Homo sapiens: one gene and its partners. The protein of the gene in region 4 interacts with the protein of the main gene of each other region in a pairwise test. Each region holds a gene or a part of one and is shown on either strand. Other genes may lie near its edges.

The links.
Region 1: the proteins of SLC7A14 (region 4) and NSG1 interact in binary tests that used the Homo sapiens proteins (3 or more experiments, as listed by UniProt).
Region 2: the proteins of SLC7A14 (region 4) and CCDC167 interact in binary tests that used the Homo sapiens proteins (3 or more experiments, as listed by UniProt).
Region 3: the proteins of SLC7A14 (region 4) and AIG1 interact in binary tests that used the Homo sapiens proteins (3 or more experiments, as listed by UniProt).

The regions. Positions count from the first base shown.
Region 1 is NC_000004.12:4,390,098-4,397,124, forward strand, and holds part of NSG1 (neuronal vesicle trafficking-associated protein 1), read left to right. Parts: intron 1-1,377; coding exon 1,378-1,494; intron 1,495-7,027.
Region 2 is NC_000006.12:37,489,876-37,496,902, forward strand, and holds part of CCDC167 (coiled-coil domain-containing protein 167), read right to left. Parts: intron 1-7,027.
Region 3 is NC_000006.12:143,329,880-143,336,906, reverse strand, and holds part of AIG1 (androgen-induced gene 1 protein), read right to left. Parts: intron 3,626-7,027; coding exon 3,462-3,625; intron 2,830-3,461; coding exon of another isoform or gene 2,812-2,829; exon of another isoform or gene 2,517-2,811; intron 1,857-2,516; coding exon of another isoform or gene 1,816-1,856; exon of another isoform or gene 1,788-1,815; intron 1-1,787. UniProt on the Homo sapiens protein: Hydrolyzes bioactive fatty-acid esters of hydroxy-fatty acids (FAHFAs), but not other major classes of lipids. Show a preference for FAHFAs with branching distal from the carboxylate head group of the lipids.
Region 4 is NC_000003.12:170,464,076-170,471,102, forward strand, and holds part of SLC7A14 (solute carrier family 7 member 14), read right to left. Parts: intron 3,328-7,027; exon of another isoform or gene 3,303-3,327; coding exon 2,980-3,302; 3' UTR 1-2,979. UniProt on the Homo sapiens protein: Imports 4-aminobutanoate (GABA) into lysosomes. May act as a GABA sensor that regulates mTORC2-dependent INS signaling and gluconeogenesis. The transport mechanism and substrate selectivity remain to be elucidated.

The DNA of each region.
Region 1 (7,027 bases), on a different chromosome or scaffold from region 4:
AGTAGCCTTATTTCCCATTCATTGGCCAGTCTAGGCCTGCGTGCTCAAGGTCACATGGCTAGTTGGGTCCAGTCGGGGTTTGAGGATGGCAGGGTGACACCCAACCACTGCCTCAAGCAATGAGTGCCTCACAGGGGTGGGTGCCCAGGCCAACCCATGCCAGGCACCCCTCCCTCTCCACCGCAGGAGCACTGGGTGGAAAAGGAGTTGGGGTCAGAGGCCAAGAGTGTGGTTACAAGGTTTATGGCTCTTGGGATCATTTTTCAGTGACCCTGGAATGGGCTCCGCTGTTCTTTCTCCCCAAGGCTGGCTTTGGGGGTCGTAGCACCGGATGAGAGGCCCTCTGGCTGCCCGCCTGGGGCTGACCATCCCCAGTTGCTGGGGTCTCTTTGTTCTGTCCTGGTCCCCACCATCGTGGAGAGCAGGTGACGGACTGCCCAATGAAGGGGCCTCGTCCCTCGGGGGAGAAAGAGCTTGGAGGTGGCTGGCTGTCTCTAGTGCAACAGCCTCTCCTGGAACCTGGCTTGGGGAGCGGGGTTTGGGGATTAGAGACCTATAACACCTTGACCCTGCTCTTGAACACCTCCCAGTCCAGTGGGACAGAGAAGTAAACAGTCCCTGGCAACGGGTGTGGTGAGTGATGAAGGCAGCGCCGCTGAGGCCAGGGCTGTGAGTGTCCAGGGCTGGGAGGCTTCTTGGGTCCATCTGAAGCTGCTGGGGTGTAGGGCAGATGCAAGGGCTGGTTTCCAGGTTGGACAAACATCGTTCTGCTTCACAGTAGGGGGTGGAGGGGAATGAGAGCAGGGAGACCCTTTGGGGGCTGTGGCAGGGGCAGGGGGAGAGGAGGATGTGGGGGTGGAGACAAAGAGGTTGATCCTGGATCTGTTTCCAGACAAGCTGGTGGCCAGCTTCTCCAGCCAGTCCTGGAGGGCTGTGGACAGTACCCTCAGACCTCCTCTTCTTGTGCCCATGGTGGCACAGCAAGGCCAGTGAAAAGGCAGGTGCAGCCTCCCAGCTTCCTGGGCCAAGCCAGGCTTTGGCTCTGGTGGGTGGAAGGAGCACTGGGTTAGGAGTCAGCTGCCAGGCTGCATCCCCGCCCTGCCGCCTATAAACCGCATGACCTTGGCCAATGAGCTTAACTTCTGTGCCCCTCGGTTATAATATTTCCCTCCTGGGACTGCTATCAGGATTATGAATGGGTCATTTCTCTGAAAGTCCTGCCACAGAGGAGATTTCCAAAAAGTAGTGGCTGTTCTCGTTCTTGTGAATTTCTTCCTGGCAAATGGTGACTTTGAATATGGGAGTTCCCAGACCCACCCTCTTTGGGCAGATATGTCTGAATGCATCTGACTTTTGTTTCTCTGTTTCCTGGATAAGGTGGTCGTGAAAACTAAGACCGAGTATGAACCTGACCGCAAGAAAGGGAAAGCACGTCCTCCCCAAATTGCTGAGTTCACCGTCAGCATCACGGAGGGTGTCACCGAGAGGTTTAAGGTGAGTGGTCCTGTGCTGGGTGAGATGCTGCTTTTGCCCCCAGAAGGGGTCTGCTGAGCTGCATAGATGCCCTGCAGGGAGGGCCAGGGTTTGACGCCGTTTGTCTGGGCTCATCCCAGCTGTGCACACCCAGTAGCTTGTGACTGCCTGCCAAGATGTTGTCCTTGTGCTTTTTGTACATTTCTTTTTTCTTTTCCTCTTCCAAAATGATCACATATTACTTATTTTTATAACAGGGGAAACCCACCCACAAACTGTCTTTTAGGCAAAGATTATAAACATATGAAAAATCACTTACCAAACATTACAATATTTACTTAACAGTTCCAGGAAGGAAGCAGGCAATAACAAAAAGATAACGCACAGCACTGATCACATGCCAGAAAGGGGTCCCAGCCCTTTACCTAGTGAGCTCATCTGAGCAACCCTCCTGGCACACCAGTACTATCGGTATAACCCATTTTGCAGATGGAAAGGTTGAGGCACAGAGTGGTCACAGCTCTACACAGCAGAGCCAGGATCTGATCTGCAGGGGGTCTGGCTTTGGGCCTGTGTGTATCCTCCATCCTTCCCCCCATCCCAATGGGATGAAGGGGTGCTGCTGAGAGCGGGAGGGTTCCAGCCTGTCTCGGTGGGAGGAGCCTTCTTGCCAGCCTGGCTGCCTTCAGAGGCCACGTTGGTTGAAGAACAAGTTGGGATATTGATCAGGAAACTCATTCTTTGGGAAACATGAGAGAGAGAGAGTAAAGCGGTAGCCTCATCCAGATTCAAGGAGGTGAATTGAGAGACATCAGTGGGCCCCAGGCCTTGCAGAGTGGCCCTGTCTGGCTCTCTGGTCACCCTCCACTTGGCAGTGTGAGCAGTTTGCTTGTGCTGGGGGCACAGGGACTCCCACCCCCACCCGCTGCAGTTTCCAGAGCCCCTGTGGGTATGGCATCATATTGGATCTCTGTGACAACCTTGTGGATCACAGAAGGTGGGACTGGGAGCCATCCCTGGTTAACAGATGAAGCCAAAACCACAGAGTGACTGGGGAAGCCAGGGCGTAATCTGACTTTCAGTCCCTCCTTCTTCCCGTTGCCACACACTGCCTGTCAGGGCCTGCCTGGTCCAGCGGGTCCCATGAGTGTTGCTGTGGGGCAATTACTTGTGTCAGCTCAGCAAATCCTCCCAGCAGCCCTCTGCCTGCTCCCTACTAATAGTAGGTACTATTTGTATTACCAGTGTTACAGATGGGGAAGTCGAGGCACAGAGCAGTCTGTGTCTGTCCCTGCTGGTATGTAAGGATGTCGTGTGTGCCGAGAGGCTCTTTTGGTGGCTCCTGGCTCGGCCCATCGTACGTTTTTGAGGTTCTTGGCCAGGACCAAGACATACTGATCCGAGGTCAATACCTGTCTTCTGCGCTGGCCAGTGGGATTAGCGCGTGCCTTATCTGCTGCCACTCACCTGTCCTGCCCCATTTGCACCCTGGGTTTGGCTGCTGTCCCTGGTTGAGGCAGGAGTGGCCTTGATTTCAAGGTCATGGTGTCCTCTGTCCTGATGGCTAAATGCTGTGTGATGTCTGAGTGTGTCTGGGTTTCTCAGGCCCCACTTGCCCTTTGCTTTCCCAGCCCCGGCGTTTTAGGTCCCCACAGAGCAGGGCGCAGTGCGGCACTTGAACAGCTATTCCTTCATCTGTTGAGTGTCTATGATGTGCCAGCCTCTGTCCCCGACCTCTGGTGTTCTTCATTTGCACTTTTCCCACATGACCACCTGAAGCAGGTCCCCAGGTCTCTTGCCTAAGGAATGGGTGATGCATATTTGCCACCAGGGCCCTTGGCAGCCTTGGCTGGGACTCTGTGGTTACCTGGCCCCTGTTGCCCAGAACCTGAAGGCTCAGAAGACCATGGGTGATTATGCTCATCCCAATAGACTGGCTGCTGGCAGCAGAAGCCCTGCCTCATCTCCCTGCCTCTACCTCCTGTGGCTGTCTGAGAAGGCGATGTATGCAGTAGGTGCTCAGTACATGACTATACTGGACTAAGTCTGCTGGGTGTGTTCCTCTGCTTAGTTTTCTTTTCCTCCTTTATGATTCACAACTGCCCTGAAGGGGTGGCATCGGCCCCTTTACACGTAAGGCTGTTGAGTCCCAGGTGGTCCCAGGGTGGCTGGGGTGCTCCCTCTGTGACTCTCTAGCTTCAAAGCCAAGGCCTTCCCAACATACCTTGCACCACATCCCTCCCCACTCCCATGGGACGCCTGCTGCTTCCCAGACCCCATCCCTTCCATCTCCTCCCAGGGCAGGTGCAGATCACACCTCTGCCAGGAAGCCTCCTGGGTCACTCTCATTTGCAACAGACCTCACCGCCCTGTTTCCAGTGCCTTTTGTAGCCAGGCTGCAATGGCATCTAACAGTGACGGAGTGATCCATGAGCTAGACTCTGCTTCACACTCCTAATGCTCATATTGTCTCATTTAATCTTCATAAACACCTCAGGAGGTAGGCGCCCTTATAGCTCCATTTTACATAGAGGGGAAACTGAGGCAGAGAGCCTTGGCAGCCTGCTCTTGGCTGTGGCACCAGAGGTCCTTGGTTTCTTGGAGAAGTGGGTTTGTGTGGGAGCACTCACCCCAGGCGCCATCGCTGTTGAGCCATTCCACTTCTTCAAATCCTTTTCCTTTGTTGATTCAAAACCCTTGCTCTGCTGCCTTGAGCCACACAGAATGTGCGGCGCCCTCCTTCCCCATCCCCAAGGCCTTCAGAGACATGGCAGGCACAGGTACCCCGGAAGCCTCCCCAGTGTACAGCTTCTTTTTCTCTTGTGTCTTTCTGAGTCCTGGTTTCCACGCTCCCTTCCCCCAGGTGCTCTCTTTTGAGGGTCTGGGTTGGGCTGTCTTCTCTTTGGGTGTGAAACCTGTGACTGGGTGTCCTGGCAAGGTCCATTGGTGTGGCCCTTCCAAGCATAGGCCCCCTCGACCTGAACTGGTGACCCGAGGAGGGGAACAAGGCCATGGAGACCCCCTGAGCCAAGAATGTCAGCCAAGAATGAATGCTTAGGGACTCTTTGTGCAGACGGAACTTACTCATCAGCCGCTCTATGCCAGCCATGGTAAGAGCTCCTTGATATCATCTCTCTGGCGCTTCTTGCACACACAGTAACAGCTTGATAAGTAAATGGATGACTAATTGTGCTGCTGGCCTCCCATGAATGGGGTACTTGGCGAGATTTCCTGGGTCTGCCCGTGGGTCCTTGCTTGTTGAGTAAGTTCAGCTGGCAGCTCATTGGATTGAAGCCTCTCTCGGGGCCATGCTTACGCGTAAGCCTCTAACAGGTGATGCCTGTCAGCTCTCACCAAGTCAGACAGGTGACCTGCTCAAGACCACACAGTCAGTGAGTGGCAGAGGCAGAGTAGGAGCTGGGCAGCCGGCTCTAGAAGCCTGTTGCTGTGGCATACTTCAGCCCACTAGCTTGCCCAGGAAGCCTGCAGGCTGGACTTTCGCAGCTGAACAACTTGCATTCTAAGGGCATCTCTTCTCTGTGCCTGCTCCGAGCCCCTTCTCAACTGGGAAGGAGATTTACCTAGCTCCCTGCCCACTTGCTGTGGGGTGGATGTGAGAGGCAGCCTCCAAAGTGCTGCTTCCCCAGGTGTTTCTGGAGCCACCTGAGTCAGCATCACCTGAAGTTTGATTTTAACTTGGACCCTGAACCGCAGGGAGATGCGTTTTGACAAATGCTTTCCAGGTGATCCTAATGTGTCCTGAGTTTTCGAGCCTTTCCGATGGGGGTGCATTCCAGCACAGAAGCTGGGAAGGATGAGGAGGGCTGGTGCTTTTTGGGAATGCTAAGGGTGCCCACCTTTCTGGAATGTTCTCCCAGCTTTTTATTACCCAGTTAGATTTCTGGCATCCCTGAACGCGTGCACACAATGAGGCGTGTGTGAAGCTGCAGCTGGTTGAGGGCTGGGCGGGTCTCTCTTTCTGAAACGGGAGCATATGGGGAGCAGGCTATGCTGGAGACACGGGCATGATGGAGGGTCCGCAATAGAGATTCACCCTCCCTGGCTTGTGTACCCCCCTGCCAGGGCCCAGTCGAAGCTGTGGTTGGGACAGAGCATCTTCCTCGTCCCACTAGTGACTGGACAGCTTCTGTGCAGCTCCCTGGCCCAGCCATCATCTTAGCTCTTTCATCTCCATGCATGAATTGCAGGAATGGAATCTCGCCTTTCCGATCTTGAAGTGACAGGTAAATCGTTTGTCCCCTCCTCTCTCCAATTTGTGTAGCTCAGAAGCACCTCATCTTTATAGGCGTTTGGATGGCATCCTTGAAACGGAGTGTCTTTTTGCATGCAGCTTTCTGATTGTCACTTGGGGATTAATCTCTTGGCTGTGAGGTTACTAGGCTGGTTGCTAGGTAACTGCTGACTGGGAGAAGGTTCTGAGAGACTCCGCCACACGGGATGGCAGGAGGACTCCCCCAGCGGCGGCCAGCTGCTTGGGCTTCCAAAGAGGTTCTTGTCAAGGAAAGCAGTCGCTTAATTAACTGGAGGCATATTTACAGTGAGAATAAACACTGGCTGAGATGTTTCTCAACCAAACCTAAACATTTTTGAAATTGCACTTCCCCACTGATGCCTGCAGAGTGGCGGGTCGGGGCTGCTGGGGCCGCTGCTTGCAGTTCTCCTTCCGGTCTGGAGACTGTCATTAGGGGCCGTCATCAGACAGGTGACAGGAAGGCTCCCTCAGGGCCCGCTCCAGCCCTTCGTGCTTCGTGATTCCGGTGATGACCGGTTGCTGACGCTGGAGAGGTCTCCACACCCTGTTTGCCTGTGATGTGAGGTCAGGTTTGGGTGGTCCAGCCTTGACCCTCACCGGGTACCATGTCACCCTGGGGCCTTGAGAGATCTGAAGGTCGGCTTTGCACGGGAACACCTTTCACCGCCAGCACAGGGCTGGGGAGTGACTTGGCAGGAGAGCCCTCGTTAGTCTGCGTGGTCCCCCTGGTTGGCAGTCCAGACTCTGGTGGGGACGTCCCTCTGCATCCTGTCGCAGAGGACTCTGTGGGTGGTTTGTGTCTTTTCTTCACATCCCTAATGACCTTGAGCTTCCTGCGTGCCCATCTGTTTCCACATTCTCCAGTAAGCCCCTGGTGTGTTCCCTAATGACCTTGAGCTTCCTGCGTGCGCATCTGTTTCCACATTCTCCAGTAAGCCCCTGGTGTGTTTCAAGATGCATTTCTTAAATATTTATGAAGAGTGATGCCGTTTCCTTGGCATTCAGCAGTGGGGGTGGGGGTTCTTCCCGTGGGGGTGGTATTGGAGACCCTGAAGGTGTGTGTGGACGCCCCCTCACCTTTAGCTATGCGAGCATCTTGTAGGATCCTGGGGCTGTGGTTGCAGAGCCCACCTTCCCCAGGCTAGCTGTAGTGTGGGGGCTTCGGCTGAATCAGATACCACGTGGGTTCAGTCATCTGTGTGTGTGTGTGTGTGTGTATGTATTCACTTTTGTGTGGGTTACCTAAAATATTTAGTGCTGTAAACGCTTGAAGATGTCGGG
Region 2 (7,027 bases), on a different chromosome or scaffold from region 4:
GTGACTGTGACCGGCAAAGTAGAGACAGCCAAGGCAGAGACCTAGACGGCACAGTGTGGGGGCAGAGAGCAGGTGCCCCCTGCTGTACAATAACATTAAGAACCACCCGTGCATTATATTTACACTCAGAAAACCAAGGTCAATTTTTACATGGGGAAAAAGCACTGTGTCCCAGTCACTGAGATGAGTCAGCAGGGGGCACAGGGCTGCGATCTGCAGGGGCTTTGGGGACCCCAGGAAGTAAGAGAGGCGATGGTATGAACCCACTGTCAGCCAGCACACTGCTTCCTGGCATCTGGCCCAGCCTGAGCCCTGGGGAGGCGCTGTGTGAAGCCCTGTGTGAGCGGTCCAGGGGCCCAAGGAACAGGTTGGAGAGTGTGAAGGGTGTCCTGGGGAAAGTCTGTTCTTTACCCAGAGACCAGCAGTGGCTAAAAACTGCCTGGGGGGATGGCTGGGGAGTCTGCCTAGGCAGGGGAGACACAGAGCACAAAGGAAGAGGGGAGGAGGAAGGAAAAAGAGGCATATGAGGCAGGGAATGGAGAAGGAGCATCCCTCAGGTAGACAGGTGGGAAAGGCCCCAGGGGAGGCCTTAGGGAGTGGGACCCAACAAGTCCGTTCTTTTAACAGAAAAGCCCCGTAGTGATGCTGCCTAAATTACTGAGAACTGCTGCTTCTCAGTATCAGAGCCTGGGGCAGGGAATTGAGGCCTGCTGGGTGAAGGAGTGAGCTCAGCGAGGAGACCCATGAGACCAAAGGCCCTCCACAGAGGGGGTGTTCTGTGCAGAAGAATGAGAAGATCTAAAGTCAGCCCAGCAGTCAAGGCTGCAGAGGCTGTGTTGTAGGCCTGAGGGGTGCTGGGGACAAGGCCCTAGCCAAGTAGGGCCGTCAATCCTGCTGGCAGGTGCCAAGAGCAGAAAGGGCTTCTTCATGCCCAGCGGCAGGGGCAGGGACTCTTCCTGCAGCCTCCCTGAGAGCCCATCAGACAGATGCAGCTCCAAGCACCCGGGCCTGGAGTTCAGCAGCCCCCAGGCAGATAAGCAAACTCCCCTCTGCAGCCTGACTTGGGGAATATCACCTTATTCTGGGAGCTTTAAGGAAGTCTCCCTGGGGTCCTATATGCCATAAAACCACTGTGTTAAGAGAAACTGTAAAATTCGTGTGAAATCCCCGCGAGGCATCTTTTCAGGAGTGTAGGCCCTCTCAGAATCAGAGCCCCACGGAGGCCTCACTGGGGGCAGGGAATTTCGTGCCAGCTCATGCACAGATAACTGCCCCAGCATCCTGGCCAGGTCAGCTGATGGGGTGCCAGCTCCACGGCTAGCTGCTGTTGGGGGCCTCATATGCAGCTTTTCTGCCAACAAGCACGAGACAGTTCGAGCCACAGGCTACCGTTCACTCTATTCTCCTACTGAATGGTGTTCCCACAGAGCATCTAGACAGCCGGGGAGGTGGCTCTCTGCCCACTCCCTAATGAACCACTGTCTAGGGCCAGACCTGTTTCTGGGAAAGGGCAGAAGGCACCCCCGGGGCCTGGTGCTGGGCTACACAGGCCACTCTGCTTTCTGATTTAGGAAGCTGTTTGCTGTCTCTCCGGCTTTACTCTTGGGAGCTTCTGGCCAGCGAGTGACAGGTTTGCTACAGGGTCAGGCAGTGGTAATGGGGCATACACTGCACCTGGCTGGACAGGTCCTTACTGGGCACTCAGACCTTCCAATAAAGAGCGTGGTGCCAGGGTAGCTGAGCCGAGCCAAGTCACAGAGTCTCCAGTGTCTGCATGACAGCATGAGTGTAAGCAGCCTCTGGAAACCAAAAGTCCCAGCAAAATGGAACCACAACAGTGACAGCAGCAGCAACACTTCTGTAGTCTGTGCTGTGTGCCAGGCACTGACCTACATGCTTTACACCGATTAACTCACATAATGCTCGCAAGAACCCTGTGAGGTGGGCAGTATTATCAGCATCCACATTTGACAGATGAGGGGACTCAGACATAGGTAACTGTCCAGGGTCACACAGGCATTAAGTCCGGGAGCTGGGCAGCCACGTCTGTGCCCTTAACCACCATGCCACATGGAGAAGGCAGCGCTCATCAGCTCTGAGGGACTCCTAGCTCCTGGGCACAACCTCCACACCTTACCCCTGGAGCTGGGCAGGTTGTGGGCAGCTTCCTGTGTCTGCAACCGCCCTGCAAGGAAGGGCCCATCTCCATCTTACAGAGGTGCAAGCTCCCTTGCAGAGGTTTTCAGCACCTTGCCCAAGGTCGTGTAACTGGGAAGGGGCAGAATTGAAGCCTGAATCTGGGTTTTTCTGCTTCAGGGCTTATGCTCTTTCCACCACTTCAAGCTCTTTCTCCAAAATCCCTCATGAAAACATTCATGACAAGAGTTCTGCAGAACAGTCATTCCACATCCCAGCTGAAGCCCATCTAAGCTTGCTGATCTGGCTTCAACAGATTCTCTACTCGGAATAATCTTGTACAAGGCTCTGCTCAGTTTCTGTCTACATAACAGATACTCTCTGTGAGGGAAAGCCCTCATTGAAATTTGTTTGTTGAGACAGAGGAGACAGGAGCCCAGCGTCTGCCCTTACACTGGGCCAACTCAATGAGCTTCACAAACATCCCAGGCATTTTGCCCCAGATCACCTCGACTGTCAAAGCATCCTCCAAAATTCACACAAAACAGATCCAGTTTGGAGACGGAAAAAGGTGGGCTACTTGGGCCTGATAAACCCTTCTTTCCCCAGCAGTACCGAAGCCTTCCCTTTCACTTGCTAATTCACAGCCTGGAGAGTGGTGTCAGCTGTTTCATCTCCAGCCCCAGCAGCCTGGGAACTGGATTTTTGAAAATTCACTCATTTTCACACGTCAGGAGACCCCAGGACATTTATTATAATGGGTAAAGCAGCCAAGTGCCTGCCCAGATGGTCTCTGGCAAGAGTGCAGGGGCTTTCCATTTGGAGCCTTCAGGCTCCACAGCAAGTCACACGGGGTTCTTAGGCCTCAATTTTCCAGGTGACAAGCCTCAAACCCCAAGGGGCCCATTATCCCCACATCGTTTAAGGGATGTTTTTCTGTGGAGGCGGCTCACAGAGCTCTGTGGGGGCAGAAAAACCTCCGCCCATGGCTCCCCACATCAACAGGCCCTGTAAGGATTTCTCTCGCAGGTTGTGCAGCTGAAGACGGCAGACCTTCCCAGTTTTTAATCAATGAACAATTTTCAGGAAGAGCAGGGAGAGCCTAGGGGCTTGTCGCTCGCCTGGACACACCCCCATGCCAGGTCAGAAAGGCGAGGGAACCGCTGCAGCCCACGCGAGTCCCGACGCCTTCCCGCGAGGAGACGGAGGCCGAGCCAGCCTTGCAAGTTAGCGCCCGAGCCAGTCCGCGCCCGAAGATGCCAGCTGTCCCTGGGCCGGAAGGTGGTGTGGGGTTTGTTTTGTCTTCTTTCCCCCCGATATCTATTTTTTGATAAACTAGCAAAAGCTTGTTCATCGCTGAAAGGCTCAAAGCACTTTTCAAGAACTGGCATCCACCCCGAGCCTTATGAATTCATTAATTAAGATGCTGGCAGACAGCCACTCCACACACGCCGCCATCCAGCCGCGCTAGGTAATGAGGTTTTAGTCTCCTGACCCCCGTCAAGTGGCGCAGAGCCAGATGTAGGCTGCCGCGAGAAATCACCTGCCCAATGGCGACCTGTCGCTCTCGCCTGGCAGCAGGTGAGGCTCATTTAATGGTCAGCGGCCCCTGAACAGTCCTCTGCGTGCTGCGAGCCTTTCTCCCAGCCCCTGGCTTGGGGTTCAGGGTCCCAGCAAGGTGGCGTCTAACCGCCTGCTCTACTGTGACCTCCACTCAACTGGGCCCAGACGTCAGGGTGGAAGGTTCAATGCCTCCTCCTGCCAATCGAGCCAGTTCAGCAAATATTTATTGACAGTCCACTCACCTGCTCCTAGCCCTTGTCTCAGGAAAGTGGGAGGTTCCCCTGAGCCCTGTGCACAGCCTGCTCCAGAGCGGAGACCGTCTTCAGCCACACTTGGTGCTTCTGCCTGCCCTGCCCCACGGAGGCTACTGCAGTGGCTGGCACCATACAAATAACCACAAGCGTCAAGCCTTCCGGTGCTCTTCCTGGCCTAGGCCATTCTCTCCCCTCAGCCTACCACTTCTCATGGTCAGTGATCCTGCCTTTTTTTTTTTTTTTTTTTTTTTTTTGAGACGAAGTTTCCCTCTTGTTGCCCAGGCTAGAGTGCGATGGCACCATCTCGGCTCACCGCAACCTCCACCTCCCAGGTTCAAGCGATTCTCCTGCCTCAGCCTCCCGAGTAGCTGGGATTACAGGCATGTACCCCCATGCCTGGCTAATTTTGTATTTTTAGTAGATGGGGTTTCTCCACGTTGGTCAGGCTGGTCTCGAACTCGTGACCTCAGGTGATCCGCCCGCCTGGGCCTCCCAAAGTGTTGGGATTACAGGCGTGAGCCACCGCACCCAGCCGATCCTGCCCTCTTTTTCTGGTAAGGATTCCAGTGAATTTTCAATGACTCCCATTAGCATTTATTCCTTACAGCAGATACTGTCAACTGGCCAACACAACACCGACTCCCCACCCCTGCTCCTTTGCCCACCTCTACTCCAGAAGGTGGAAAAGCTCAGCAGATGCTCTCCCAACCTCACTGCAGCTAGGCTTGCTCATGACCCAGTTCTGGCCAATGAGACGTTCCAGAAGTCAGCTAGGAGACTCCTGGGGAAGCTTATGCTTTGTTGATAAAAGGGACAGTGTTGTTCCTTCCTCCTCCTTCCTGAGTTAAAGTTGAATATTAGACTGGAGCTGTGGCAGCTATATTGTGACCATGAGGAAACAGTGAAGAGAATGCAGAAATACCAACTCTGACATAGCTAAGCTTTTGAACCAATGCCAGTAGCCACCTACCTACAAATTTTTTTTTTTTTTTTGAGACGGGGTCTCTGTTGCCCAGACTGGAGTGCAGTGGCACGATCTTGGCTCACTGCAACCTCCACCTCCTGGGTTCAAGCAATTCTCCTGCCTCAGCCTCCCGAGTAGCTGGGATTACAGGCGTGTACCACCACTCCTGGCTAATTTTTGTATTTTTAGTAGAGATGGTGTTTCACCATGTTGGTCAGGCTGGTCTCGAACTCCTGACCTCAAATGATGCACCTGCCTCAGCCTCCCAAAATACTGGGATTACAGGCGTGAGCCACTGCACCTGGCCCCTACAAATTTCTATAAGGGGAAAAGTCTACTCCCATTTGCTTAAATCATTGAGGTCAGTTTTCTATAACTTGTAGCCAAAAGCTTTCCAAACTGATAAACTTTCTGTACTAGGGGTCAGATCCAACCAAGTTATCCACTTTAGGATACCGGCTAAGACACCACACATCTGTTAACTCAAGACCAACTGGTCACTGAAACATCTAAAGACACCAGTTTGAACAGTCCAGCTACAAAAGAAAAGTGCAATGACAAAGGAACAGCTCATTACCATCAGAGATCCGAAAACACAAACAGGTTTTACATCAGTCAAAATTCTCCTATCAGTTTAGACTGAAATTCAACCTTTCCTTCCTCCCACACAACATTAAAATCAGTACTGGGTGGGTGATTTCTCATTTGAACTATAATTTTCTTTTCTTATTAAGAATGAAATCTCAGAAGCTAAAACTCACAGTTTTTTCCAACTCTGAGATCTCATATGGTGGCAAATGAATTGGATAAAAAGACCTCAAAAGGAACCACTTTGAGGGGGAGGCTAGAGGGTGCCCTGGTTGTCCTAAGAGGTGGCTGCTTATACAGCTGGCCCAAGCCAGCCCTAAGGGTGAGTGCTGCCTGCTTGGTAATTGCTTCATTACAAGTGGAGACTGTTTGCAGGTGCTGAGATCACTCACTTGTGGGGGTTTTATTGCACTCGTCAGATTAACAAACATTTTTGATTAAATCACCACTTCATTGGCTCTGAGCACACAACTTTTAATAAGAGGACAATATCTACTGCTACTGAGCATCAGTGCACATTCAATACTCAGACCCGCTGGGGGCAACTGAGAAGCAAGGTGGGGAGACAGCCAGCCAGATGTCAGGCTTTTTCCAAGGCACACGGTTACAGATGTCAAATCTTCGAATATCCAAGCAAAAAGTAAACTTAGGGACCAAGATAGCAAATATAAACATCTACCGTGGTATGGAGAGGGTAAAACAATGGAATCTGCCCCAGTATAAGGCACTTGGAGAATACATGCCCCACCAAGTTTAAAAACGTAAAAATCCGGCCGAGTGTGGTGGCTCACGCCTGTAATCCCAGCACTTTGGGAGGCCGAGGCGGGCGGATCACTTGAGGTCAGGAGTTCAAGACCAGCTGGCCAACATGGTGAAACCCCGTCTCTACTAAAAATACAAAACTTAGCTGGGCATGGTGGTGCACGCCTGTAGTCTCAGCTTCTCGGGAGGCTAAGGCACGAGAATTGCTTGAACCCGGGAGGCTGGAGGCTGCAGTGAGCTGAGATCATGCCGCTGCACTACAGCCTGGGCAACAGAGCAAGACCCTGTCTAAAAATAAAATAAAATAAAATAAAAACTTAAAAGTCTGTCAGCCAAACAGAAGACATCTGTGATCTGTATTTGGGCCATAGTCAAGGAGTTTGTAACCCCTGGTGAAATTCAAGTCCTTCATGTTATAGATGAGTGAACGAATGCCCAAGAACGAGTTTGACTTAGCCATGGTGGAAGGATGCAAAAGAAATACAAAGGCTGGAGCTACCATGTATTGATTACCAATCCGGTGCCAGGCACGTGCTGGGCACTTAACGCAATGTCTCATTTAATCCTCACAACCACACTGTGAGGTGAGGTGCCATCTGTAGTGAGACTACAGGCTGTCTGTGAAAACACACTGGTCTCTTCCTCCATAGTAAGCAAACAGTAGCTGGCTATGTGGCCTCCTGACTGGTGAACGCATTTCCCTGATCCCTTGCAGTCAGGTGGGGTTTTAGTTCTTGCCAATGGAAAGTGGACAGTTTGG
Region 3 (7,027 bases), on a different chromosome or scaffold from region 4:
TTACAGAATGGGAATGTATATTCTATGCCTGTCCCACCATTCTGTTTTGGAAGCAGATAACTTTTTGTCTGGTTTCCCAGGTTCACACACAGCTAGAGAACAATTTTGCTTCAGGATGACTCATACCCTGAGTGTCACGCATACCCAATTTTATGATATTTAAGATGAGATTTTGGACTTGAGAGTTGATGTCTGAAAGACGTTTGGGGTTGTTGGGATGGAATATTTTCATTGGGTGAAGGACATGTATTCTGGTGGGGAGAGAGTGAAGTATTATGAGCTGAACTCTGTCCCCCACTTCCAAATTCATATGCTGAAATCCTAACCCCCAGGATGTGGTTTTAAAGTCAGAATGTGACTTTACTTGGAGATAAGTATTTACAAATGAGGTCATCAGGGTGGGCCCTAATCAAATACAACTGGTATTCTTATACAAAGGGGAAATTTGGAGACTGGACTGAACATCAGTTAGAAGGCACTGGCTCTGCCATCACCTGTTCTGGAGGGTCACTTAAGATTTTGGGGCCTCAGTTACTTTTGGTGAAAGGAAAGGGTCGGTTTCGATGATTTCCAATCTCTCTTTCAGCAGTAAGATTCTGCAATAATGTGATTTTTATCTTGAAGTTGTAGCTAACATAAGTTACCCAAGTAGACAGAGTTGAGCTATTAAAAACCATTATGGAAAAAGGAGGGTGGCTCCAATGCAATCTTCCTTCTTCTTGGGGGATTGTATAGTAACTGATGTGAAATACTCAGGATTGTAGTACTGTACTCCCATGTCCTCAATTCATCCTAACACACTGCTTTTAGTGAGTAGTTTTTGACTCAACAGCTAACAGAATCAGGCAGCTAATGTGACTGAGTAAAGTGGCCAGGTGAGAACGAGGGAAAGTTAGTCATCTAAAGTGGATAACTGATACTCAATTCTTTTTTCTTTTCTTTCTGTTTTTTTTTTTTTTTTCTGAGAGTTTCACTCTGTGGCTCAGGATGGAGTGTGGTGGCACGATCTTGGCTCACTGCAACCTCTGCCTCCAGGTTGAAGCGATTCTCGTGCCTTAGCCTCCCAAGTAGCTGAGATTACAGGCATGTACGCCCGGCTCATTTTTGTATGTTTAGTAGAGATGGAGTTTTGCAATGTTGGCCAGACTGGTCTTGAACTCCTGGGCTCAAGTGATCTGCCCACCTTAGCCTCCCAAAGTTCTGAGATTACAGGTGTAAGCCACCGTGCCCAGCCAAGGGATAACTGATACTCTATTCTAAACCATTGTCACCAGAATAGAACAGTGGGCTCTGTGTTCCAGATCTTAAAATATTTCCTAAGAAGCTGAAAATCTGGCCTTCATGTGAAATCTCCTATTTTTTTTTTTTTTTTTTTTGAGATGGAGTCTTGTTCTGTTGCCAGGCTGGGGTGCAGTGGCATGATCTCAGCTCACTGCAACCTCTGCCTCCTGGGTTCAAGCAGTTCTCCTGCCTCAGCCTCCCGAGTACCTGGGACTACAGGCACACGCCACCATGCCTGGCTAATTTTTGTATTTTTAGTAGAGATGGGATTTCACCATGTTGGCCAGGATGGTCTCCATCTCTTGACCTCGTGATCCACCTGCCTCAGTCTCCCAAAGTGCCGGGATTACAGGCATGAGCCACTGCGCCCAGCCAAAATCACCCAATTTTAAAATACTGATTCAAAAACAAAAATTCCACGATGTAGGCCTAACAGAACTTGATAGGTAGAAGTTGGGGGAGGCCAGCAGTTTGTGACCCCTCTTGTAAATGAGGATGATACTTACTTGGCACAAAACATCTGTCTTTGTGGAACTAACTAGATGGTCCTAGGTACATAAACTTAATTTTCATATCTAAAATGAATTTTTAAAAAAAGTTAGTCAATCTTATGTTACTTAAAAGAATGGCATAAATTAAACAAATCATTCAAAAAACCTTAATTTCATTATTCATTTTTAACTCCTCATTCAAAGCTGCTAAAAAGCAGTATTCTATTAATGTAGAGTGGATATTTCTCTCTAGTGGTTTTCAGGTCATCCTCTCATAGAAGTAGTAGAACTGTGGCCAAATGACTGTCAAATCAATCAAGTCAAGTGTAAGCAGGTACTTAAGTACTTCCTGAATAACATATATTGGACACATTCGTTTAAGTTTAAATACAGTTTTTCTTCCAAGAAGCTGAGAAAGGTTTATATTTTGTTCTCAAAATATTTTTGTCAAGTAACTAAATACTTCTGTAAATTAATGGAGAAAGATCACTATTTCCATTGAACAGGTGGAACATTATTAAAAGATTAGTGTCTTGTTCCCCAAGCTGTGGCCTGAACAGAATTAAAAATGTTGATACTTTTTCTAATAGAACATTGATTAAAATCAAAAGCTGATGAGAAAAGAAACCCTCAAATTCCTCTGCGCCATTTAACATTGGCTAATACCCTGACACATACAATCTTAGAGGATCCACACACACAAAAGTCTGATTCAGTAACCATGCACAGTAACCATGCACTCACTGTGCGTTATTTGTCTGATTCCATTGAGCTCCTGGCAGGGTGTCTGGCACAAAGCAGGGTGCTCAATGTCTGTGTCACAGAGTCCATTTACTGGGGATGTCTAGAATGCTGTGATTGTGTCAGAGGAAAGAGCCAGGGCTTCCTAAAATCTCCAAACCATCTTGCCTTTGGATGTATTTTCATGCAGGACTCAATCACTACATGTCTGTGCTGGCGCTTTTTCCACCTTTCAATTTTTATGTTATTGTACATACACTTTGGACAGGTTTTGCACAGCTTGGATAAGATTACGTGCCTTGCCAAGATGGAGGCTCTGCCATAAATGGAAACAAAAGAGAAATCAAATCACAGGTTAAAAGAGTTTTTCCAGCCACGAAATATTATCTTTTACTGCTTGTAGCTCTTTGCCACTTTCAGACTTTCCGTGACAGCCACTGGTGAGTCAAGGTGGCCGGAGCATCACACACTGCTTAGATAGAGCTCTAGCAGAATGGTAGTAAGACCTCTCCCAGGTGACTGCACCCACATAGAAAGTGGAGATCTGGGTGACTTTAAAGGAGATTGGTTACATTTAATAATGTATCTATTTAATTTGAGGTCCCTTTAGCTAACTAAGGCAGCATTGTGTTGTTAATGAGGACAAATTTCCCTAATATATATTTTTTGCTAACACTACATTTTTCCCTATAAAATTTTATAGACATGCCTCTTTCCTCTTTAGATTTGGAGGTTTTACTAGCTAACAAGACCAAGTGACTAGTAAAACTTTCAGGTAACTGTCAGCAGCTCTTAAATTCATATTGTAGTTTTAAAAATGGAGCTCTTTATAGGAGATCCTGTGTGAAGGCTAAAAGAAGAGGCTACAGTGGAATTTTCCCTCAGTCTCTGCATAGACTGTTGCCGGCAGTAATTCTCTTGTTTTATGTTCCCTCAGACAATACTTACTTTTCTGTGTATCCCAGATATAGTTGTTCAGAACTTCTCCCAGCAGGTACAGGAAGTTCATTAAGATGGTTGTAGACCCAAAGAAGATGATTCTGGCTCCTGGGCCAATGTGTTCCAGGAAAGGGTACACCCACATGCCAGTTACATGATGCACCCAGCACACCCTGCAAAAGAATCGGAAAGGAGACAAGGACAGGAGTCACTCTTATGGCAGGCATCAAAGCTGCTATGATGCAAATATACACTCCCTCACTCTCCCCATGCTTCAGCATTTGCCAGTCTCAAGTTCGCTTCTGATACTCAGGAGCTACTGGAAACTTGGTTGCTGTTTATTTTCATTTACTTTTTATTCTGAAATAATTTTAGACTCACAGAAGAAGCACAACACACTCAGCTTCCCCTCATGTTAACATCTTGTATAATCCTGGGACAATTGACTAAAATTAAAAAATTAACATTGATATGACAGTACTAAATTATAGGCTTTATTCAGAATTTCCCAGTATTCCTGTGAATGTCCTTTCTCTGTTCCAGGATCCAATCCAGGACCCCATGTGGTCTTCAGTCTTCACATCTCCGCAGTCTCATACTCTGGCAGTTTCTCAGTCTCTACTTGTCTTTGATGATATTTGAAGGGTATTTGAAATGGCTGACTTTATTAACACTGTTAAACAATCTGGTCATGTATTTGAAATGGCTGACTTTATTAACACTGTTCAACAATCTTTTAAATCTCTTCTTTACAGAATGAGACAATATGGCATTGGGCAACCACAGGAGAATAAGACCTAGGTGAGTCTGTGCCAGATACCTTGCCATATGGCCTTCCAACTAGACACCAACACTCATGCCATATGCTGACACAACCATGCATACCCTAGCAGGTACCAGCTTCCCACTCCTCTGATCTTCAGATGTGACATTGATTTCATTTTTTTTCCTATTTTACATTCTTACTTAATCATTCTCTTTGTGTTCCAGAAATATTTTTGACTCAGTGGGAATAGTAACATCATGAATTGCCACTGCTTTCAAAAGTTTAGTTAGAATATCGGCTCCATTGGCTTGGTCCTGACATGACTGCTTACAGCTGTTTTCCAAACATTCTTGAGTTCATTCCTTTATAAACTGTTGGCAATTGTGAAGACTAAATAAAATACAGATAACTCTATTGCATTGGGAATAAAGATGACTTTTCATACTTATGTGTTCTGAGGTCATTTTCCTTATCCTTGGCTTCACTCTAAGTGGTTTATCTACATATAAATATTACTGACAGGGTGCAGTGGCTCACATCTGTAATCTCAGCACTTTCGGAGGCTGAGGAGGGTGGGTCACCTGAGGTCAGGAGTTCAAGACCAGCCTGGCCAACATGGCGAAACCCCATCTCTATTAAAAATACAAAAATTAGCTGGGCGTGGTGGTGCGCGCCTGTAATCCCAGCTACTCGGGAGGCTGAGGCACAAGCATCACTTGACCCTGGGAGGCAGAGGTTGCAGTGAGCTGAGATCACACCACTGCACTCCAGCCTGGGTGACAAAGTGAGACTTGGTCTCAAAATAATAATAATAATAATAATAATAATAATAATAATAATAAACATTACCTACACATGTACCTCATTTTTGGCAGGAAACCTGGGGATCTATACCTGAGAACCTGCGTTATCAATGAGGGTGAGATCCCCCCTCTTCTTGCAGGCGAAAATTCATTCTGGGGTTGGTGGTAAAACAATTTTGCACTTTTTATGTAGAAAGCACAGATACACACACACACACATATACACACACACATATATACACACACACAGATGTACATATATGTATATAGAAACACATCAGTAGGTGAACAAACAATCAAATGTGGCATATGCATGCAATGGAATATTACTCAGCCATAAAGAGGAGTAAAATGTTGATACATGCTACAACATGGATGGACCTTGAAAACATTATGCTAAGCAAAATAAGCCAGACACAGGTCACATATTGTATATGATTCCACTTATATGAGGTACCTAGAATAGGCAATTTCACAGAGACAGAAAGCATGGTATCTATCAGTTACCAGGGACTCGGGGGAGTGGAGAATAGGGAGTTATTGTTTAACGGGAACAGAGTTTATGTGGGGGGATGATGAGAAAATTTTGGGTATAGATACTGGTGATGGTTACACAATGTTGTAAATACATTTAAGGACATTAAATAGTATACTTGCAAATAGCTAAAATGACAAATATTATGTTATGTATATTTTAGCACAATAAAAAATGTTCCTGTGGTGGAAATTAGGAAAAAAAAAACAGGTCTACAAAGGTTCCTTGGTAGAGGGAAGTAGTAATGAAAGAAAGATTGAGGAACAATCTTACAGCAAAGAGGCATTCTCTAGGTCTGTCCAGGTCAGTCTCAATCACTGTCCAAACAAAAATATTTGTATCAAAAAAAGAGGCCATGTTAGTCCAAAGATTCTGTTAGAAAAGCTGAAGCAGTTGTGAGAATCCGCAGAAATTAAATGGTTAGAACTACCCTGTGGGATTCTGAGATATCATATTGTTTGTCCATAAATTAGAAGCAGTTTCATCATTCTGACATTGTCTTAAATAATGTAAGGAAGGTGCTGTGTACCCATCAAATGGTTTATTAATTTCCATGGAGAGAATATGCAATATTCCCCCAATTTAACACCATTAAGCTGTAATTGATGTTGCAAATCAACTTATAAAATTTTAATCAGTCTGTGCTACAGGGTGTTTGCACTGGAGCAGTCGGATGGATCTGGATTAAATGTGAGTCAGGCCATGCCACTATTCTGCTCAAAACTTGCTTCCTCTCCCACTCAGAGTACAAGCCAGAGTCCCTAGATGGTTCTTCAAGGCCCTACCCCGCACTTTTCTGATTTAATCTCCTGTTATTCTCCCCATCGTTCCCCGCCACTCCAGCCCATCAACTCCTTGGTGTTCCTCGAACACTCTAAGCTCTCTCTGCCTCCAGGCTTTTGTATTATTCCCCTGCCCAGAACAATACTCCTCACCACCCCCACAGCATCCCCTTGGGCTCCCTTGTGTCCTTCGGGTTTTCACTCAAATGTCACCTTTCCAGTGATGTCTTCCCTGGCCACTGTATCTAAAAATTGCAACCTCTACCCTCAAACTCTCTATTCTTTCATCCTTTATTTTTTCTCCCAGCCAAATAATATACTCTACTTATTTTTATTTGTCTGTTTATTGTCTATTCAATGAGCAAAGGAATTTTGTCCAATTATGTTCATTGCTGTATTCTGTGGTTCTTGGAGCAGTATCTGGCAGAGTATGCACTCAATAACTATTTGTTGAATTAATAATCTAATGAAGGAATATAAACAGCAACATCTGTTTATTGAGCCATTACTATATGGCAGGCACTTCGCCAATAACTTATGAATTTTTTTTAATCTCAAAAAAAACCTCCAAAATCTTTATGCTTTTTGTCACTATATTTAATTTAAGTCAGGAGTAGGGAAACCTTTTCTGTAAAGAACCAGATAGTAAATATTCCCATATGGTCTCGATCACACCTACTCAACTCCGC
Region 4 (7,027 bases):
AGTTTTGTCTTATCCTTTCTGTTTCTATTTTTGTTTGCTCTGAGTTCCTCACTTAATTTTTGTTTTGTATTATATATATTTTAGTAGCTGCCTCAAATCCTTTTGAAATGAAGCAGAGTACCAATAAATAAGTAGAATAAAATCTGAAGAAAATCAAGTAATTGGCTCCAAACCACAAATCCACACAATGAAATCTCACTCGGAGAGCTTTTGCTATTCAGAATTCAATAAAATGTAGGTCTTCCTTGGACTCCCTTCAAGGGGCAAAGTTTCTAAGATAATTATAAGGTGATCTTACTTTTAATGTGATCCCACACATACATCGTTTAGAAACCTGTTAAGAAAATAGTAATATTGTCATTGTAGTGATTGATGGTATTTGAAAACTGCATTGTAAAATCTGGGACTGTTCACAGAAGCAGGTAAACCTGAGGACAAACATGTCTATGTACCTGAAAATACTTTTTCTATCTTAGTGATTTTTTTTTTAAAACTAAGGTTGCTAGGGAGGTGATTTATCAACTTTAGAAAAATAAAGGGAGCTAAGCTTAAAATATACTAATATACTATGTGGGAAAAATGGCTCCTGAAATGAGAGTGCTTAATAGAATCTGCATGAAGTCAACAGCAATGGTGTTAACCAAAGCATACATTTTCCATTCCCATCCTATAGAAATTGCATTCATCTGCCACCAGGCTATTGTTACTTTAATACTTAAACCTCACTAGTAAAAGGAAGCTCTTTCACCCACGTTAAGATTTTGCCATTTTGCACTCCTATTTCTCTATTCTCATGCTTAATGAATACAACCCCTCCTCATCTATCTAGATATGTATCAAGCTTAACAGATTCTATTTACACCAGGCAGATTTGTTGAGTCCTATAGCCAATTCAAAACTTTGTTTTCAAAAGATGACTGATAATTAGTTTATAATTAATTCCTAATGCTGTATTTCACAGAGTAGGCACTGTATCTTTATGGTTAACTCTAGGGAAGAGAAAACATAGCATTGTCAAGCATGATATTAAAATGACAAAATGACCTCAGGAAACCAGAGTTCTAAACAATGACTACAGAAGAATAAAAAATATCTAGAAAATTGCAGTTATTTTAGTTTAATGGTATACATTGGCTATGATTACGATATGTAATTTATTTAAAGCATATTTTTTAAAAACTAGTTTCAATTCATCTTTATATGTATGTTAAAACCCAGTGCATCAGCCTGGAGACTTGTCAAGTTTGTTGTTTTATCTGCATTTACCAGGCTCCAGTGCTGCTCATCCATGGACTGTAGCCCCCAAGGGCAAGTGCCATGCTTCTATTCATTCCTGTCACTTAGCATTGGGTCTATTCTCAACCAGTGTTAGTTGAATGAAAAAATGGACTTTTACCTCCTTGCCATAATCCTAAAGCATGCCAAGATGGCATGAGCCTCAGCCTTTCAGAAAGAACAGACTTGAGTGCTAGCGAATATGTTCTGGAAAACGTTTGGCATACTGATACATCCAGGAGAGAAAGGACAAGGAATTTCTTCTTTTGTCCCTCTTTCAGGAAATCCTCACAGAGATTTTATTAATAGCTTGATTAATTTTAATAGCTTGGTTAATTCTATGATAGCTTGATTCAAATTGTGCCTTCACATACATTTGTACGTATCTCAGTGCAGCCACAGGAATTCTTGTAACCCAAGAGTAGAATTTATATTGTAGCCCATGTGTGTTTTTTTCCTTTGCAAATTCTCTCATCTATTCTATTTCTGAGAAAATTCTTTTAATAGCCCCTTTTATGGCCCAAATTTACATCTTACCAGGTAGATATTTCTCTGGGCTTCAGTGAAACTACTCTGGGAAATAACAGGAAAAAAAAATACACCTCTGAAAGTGAGCTAGCCCCAAGGAATAAGGTTCAGAAGTGAAATGTGATCTCATGGAATGCAACTACCTAAGTCGCTATACTTCAGCCTATTTTGTTTTCAGAGTAGCACACACCAATCAAGTGGTTGCCTATCTCAAAAACTTTAGAATTTATAATTTTAGAAATATGAAAGAGAATTTGCAATGTGATCTCAGTGGCTGGCTCACTTCTCCTTGTAAAAATTTTTATCTGATTATAAAACAAACAACCTACTTTTTCAAGGCATATCAGTGCCATGAAATCATGCTCCACCTTTGCCCGCTTTCATCATATCACCAGGAGCTGCAGTCTGATATAAGAGAGGCCATGACAGAGAGTTAATTTCTGCCAATGCCCTTCTGGCTTTTACCGCAAGATATGGTTATTTAATTTTCTTCTGGGCATTTACATAGAGCTTTGATGGTGCTTCTTACCATATCACTGGGTCTGCCTGACTGCTTTATGGTGAATCTGAAACCATTGGGAAAATGGTCCAGAGTCCCTGAACTTTGCTGGATCCTAAAATTATAGTTTGGAAGCTGTGAGAATGTTGGTGAATAAAAAGAAGCATGTGTCTTTTCCATGAATTAATTTTGGGTGAGATTGCAGGATAAAATGATGCTTGCTCAGGAAGTGCCAATGCCCATCTACCCACCCTGACCTCGGGGAGCAGCACTCAGCCTGACATGCCAAGAACAGAGCTTTGTCCCCATGTCTCAGGTGACTGAAATTCTGCCTTCTGCCCAGAGCCCCTGCTTGGGCTTCAACCAGCAAAGCAAAGGCCTAGGAAACATTTGGTACCATCAGCTCTGGTGGTTGCACCTAAGATGGAATTTCATATAGCCTCTTGTTTATTTATTTATTTTATTTAACAAGGCGACCAGTTAGGGGACCCAGGTTAAGCCCTTCAACAGAACTATCCTGAAGAGCAAAAGTAGCAAATGACAGGCTATGACTAGGGATTGAATTTGGGGAAGGCTGGATTTGTGAAATGAGAGCCAAAAAAGTTTTCACCTTCTAGCCCACAGGTTAAGTTACTGAAAATCAGTCATCACCATTTCTACCCACTTGTGTGTTTCTCCTACTCTGGAGAGTAATCTAACTCATCATTTGCAATCAGGGCCTCTGAGTTCTGTTTGTGTTTGCTTTTGCTCTTCGCTTTGCTACTTGTCCGGCCGTTTGCCTTCGCATCTGACATCTGTTGGTAATAGAAGCCTTTGTCTTCAGTGGGCCCGCCCCAGTCCTCCTGGCTCTCGCCCTCTGTGGCGTAGGAGAAACCCTCCTCCACTGAGAAGGGGTCATCCACGTCGTAGCGTTGGTACGTGCTTTGGTGCAGGGCCTCTTCTCGAGCGCTGATTTCCAGGGTGCTGTTCCAGATGCCATATCCAAAATAAATGAGCAGACCTGTGGGGCGAGGGGAAAGGTACAGGTGAATAAGCAATTGCTTTGGGATCCTGGGACTAGCAGAGAGATCACCTTCAGTGATGAAATCAAAGCTGGCGGGGTGGGGGGCGGTGGGGGCGGGGATGTATTTTCTTTGCTTTATGTGGTGTTTTGAAAATACTTGAATTAGATGCCTTTTAAAAATTGGGAGATCTTGCGTTAAGTAACCCATATTTACAGATTTTCCTAGAAAAGTCAAAAGGTCTGACAACACTGCATCCACATTTCTACATGGTGATTTTTGGCTGGTGTTGAGAACTGGCTGCCTCTTTAGACAGGATACAGGGTCTCTAGGTTACCTCAGTCCCCACCTCCCATGCTGACGTCGGGCTCATTACACTCATATAGCTGCCAGCCAGGAATTTGCATTTTCTACCCTGGGTGAACTATTTATGGATCAGCAACAGTTTATTCCCAACGTTCTTATAAGATTTGATTATTCTCTGCCTCCAGTTAGGGACTCTATCTCATGTTTCACCTCTTAGCAGCATGCATATATTATCCTGTGATTTACCTTGACATTTTACACTCACTAAAGGCGTGATATATCATGGCCACTCCAAGCTGCCTGCTTTCTTCTGTGTGCTCTCAGAGTGTCTAGTGCATGCTACTATTATGTCCCTTAGAACATCTGTTGTGTGATTATCTGCACAGGGTCGTAGACTCTGCAGAAAATTGGCACTTAATGTTTGTTGAATGAATGGGTGAGAACTCCTGATAAGCGTGAAATGTCCAGTGCAACCTCTGTGTTGATGTCATCCCAATCAAAGGAAAGAAACTTGCCCCCCTCGTTAATATGTAGCATTCATATATGCTAATGTTTCATTTCTATGATTTAAAAAACATGCATAAAAGTCATTTATGAGTACCCATTTTCTTTTTCTTTTCTTTTTTTTTTTGAGACAGGGTCTCACTCTGTTGTCCAGGCTGGAGTGCAGTGGCATGATCTCGGCTCACTGCAGTCTCTGCCTCATGGGCTCAAGCGATTCTCCTGCCTTGGCCTCTCGAGTAGTTGGGACCACAGGCATGTGCCACCACGCCCAGCTAATTTTTGTATTTTTGAGAGATGGAGTTTCACCATGTTGCCCAGGCTGGTCTCAAATTCTTGGACTCAAGTGATCCGCCTGCTTCCACTTCCCAATGTGTTGGGATTACAGGCATGAGCCATCAGTCCTGGCCTGAGTCCCCATTTTCTATCTTGAATAGACTGTGAAGGTTCAGGGCCTGGAAGTCTGGGAACCATAACCTTGGAGTCCATAGAACATGATAAGTAAGACTGTGGGCTCTGTGTTCAAATCCTGCCTTCATCACTGTTAGCTGTGTAACCCTGGTCCCATTACTTAGCCTCTCTGTTCCTCAGCATTCTCTGTAAAACGATGAGAGCTATAGCAACCCTCTTAACATGGGAGTGCTTGAGGATGAAATGAGGTAAGTGGTGGTTCTCAACCCTGGCTGCACTTGAAAGTCACCTGGGGGTGTTTTTTGAACCACTCTGATACCCTAGCCCCATCCTGGAGATTCTGATTTAATTAGTCTGCAGTATAACCCAAGCATAGGTATGTTTTTAAAACTCCACAGGTGATTCCAATGGTCAGAGTGTCCCTGAGATAATGAACTGTGCCTGATGGGCACAGTGTTCCACTGCCCACTCAGCCCACACTATGGCCTAGGCACTGGGGTCCATACAGTATGCAACCTCCTTCCCGGGCCCTAACATCCTCCTCTGAGTAGCACCAGTCTCTTTGACTTTGCTAACCCTGCAGGCTTCTGCTGGGCTGGTTTGCTTAGAACCGCAAGTCAAGCCTGCTTTGCTGCTGTGGTGCTTGAGAAATCTTGCTCTCTTTTGAATTTGAAGTGTGCCTTTTTAAGCTTGGATTTCTCCCTCCTTGTCTCAAATGACTTTGTCCCCCCTCCCTCCCACACTCCCCAGTGAAATCAACTTTCCAGGAGCCAAAGTAAGCACAGATTTATAGTCCTAATTGGTAATAAATCCTAGAGTTAATTATTTGCAGATGTAGCTATTAGTGCTCAAATAATGATTCATCTTTTAAAAGCAGGGTATTTACTCTTTCTTTTCTGTAGGTGGGGGGTGGCTATGGGGGATGGTTATTATCCTTGTGTAGAACAGGGCATCACATTAAGGCCTCTTCTAAGAGTGCCAGTGTGCTGGTTCTTGGAGAATGCCTCTGTCTGAAGCATGTTTGGCATCTGAGAATGGATTTCAGGCGACCAGGCAGGACCTGTGCACACCTCCTTTTGCACTGCTTTGCTTTTTTGCCATCTTTTCTTCTAGACACCCAGGCAGATGCCAAATATTGCCTCCTACTCCTGCTTGGTACCTATTATGCCAATTCTTTCCTTTCTGATGCCCTTCTCTGACTTTGCTTATAGACGACTCATTTCCCTACTGAACTTAATACCATCTTTTTCTTTTCCCTTTGCCCCAAACGTCTCTCCTCTGCCACCACAAAGGTCATTGTTCAGTCACTGGTTTGACATCACTCATCACTGGTTTGTCGATTCCAACAGACCTGTCCCTGCCCCCACAAGGTATTTTGGGTGTCAGATAGATTCATATTATGGGAATTCTCTAAAAACCTTGAGTCATAGATATTTAGAGCTGGAAAAGATGCTATAGATCACCTATGCATTCTAAAACCTTCATTTTACAGAAGAAGAAACAGAGGCTGGGAAAGAATAAGTGACTTGCCTGGGTCTGAGAAGGAGAGGAACCAGCTTTATACATGGAGGGAGAGAAGTCTCTTGCGTGTCTAGTCCTTCACACCTCCTCTCCCCTCCCCCAGGCTGGTTTACAGACTATGCCCACTGCAGTAAACATGTGATAAGAGGTTTACATGTGTTCTTTGGGAGTGGCCAGGCCTGGAAGGAACATGTGTGTGTGTGTGTGTGTGTGTGTGTGTGTATGTGTGTGTGTCTGTGTCTGCGCGCTCTCACATATTGACTGTGGTTACTTTTTACTTTGTGAAGACAATCCATGGAAACTTGCCACATAAATATTTATGGGTCTTTTCATGTTTGCCCTGAACCCCCTGGAGTTTCAAAGGTGTATCACTCTGTCTTCAAAAATGCATTTCAAATGTGAGTACTGTGAAACAAGAAACGACCGTGTGCATGCAGCCTGGTAGAGTAAATAGTAGATGCAAAGCCGTTCCCCTAGGGCTTGGCATTCTGTGTGTCTATCTTTCTTGCTGGCCCTTGAGTCAATTCAGGAAAAGTGGTGTGAAACTGAGAAGGATTGGAGAAAAGAAAAATGGAGGGGGACAAAGAAACAGAGAGGAACAGATGAAGGGAGGGAGGGAGGGAGAGAGAGAGAAGAGAAGAGAAACGTATTACCATCTGTCCCACATAAACAAGGGCTTTGTGTCGGAGGAGTAAACAGAGCTGCTCCACGCCTCCTGTGTGGAAGCAGGGTGTTTTGTTTCTGCTCCTTTTTTTAGTTGGCTTAGAGAATGAAGCATGAGGTAGTTTCTGAAAAATCTGTAGGGGTTCTGGGAATCCTGAATCATCTAAACTAAACTTCACAAAGCATTTCTGTGTGCTGGGTTAGGATAATGATGGATGGTTGATGTTGCACCTTTGTCCCAAAGAGCTCAAAATGTTACACAAACAGTATCTTGTTTTGTTTAGACTCCCTTTAACCTGTCTGGGAAGGGGTGTGTGTGTGT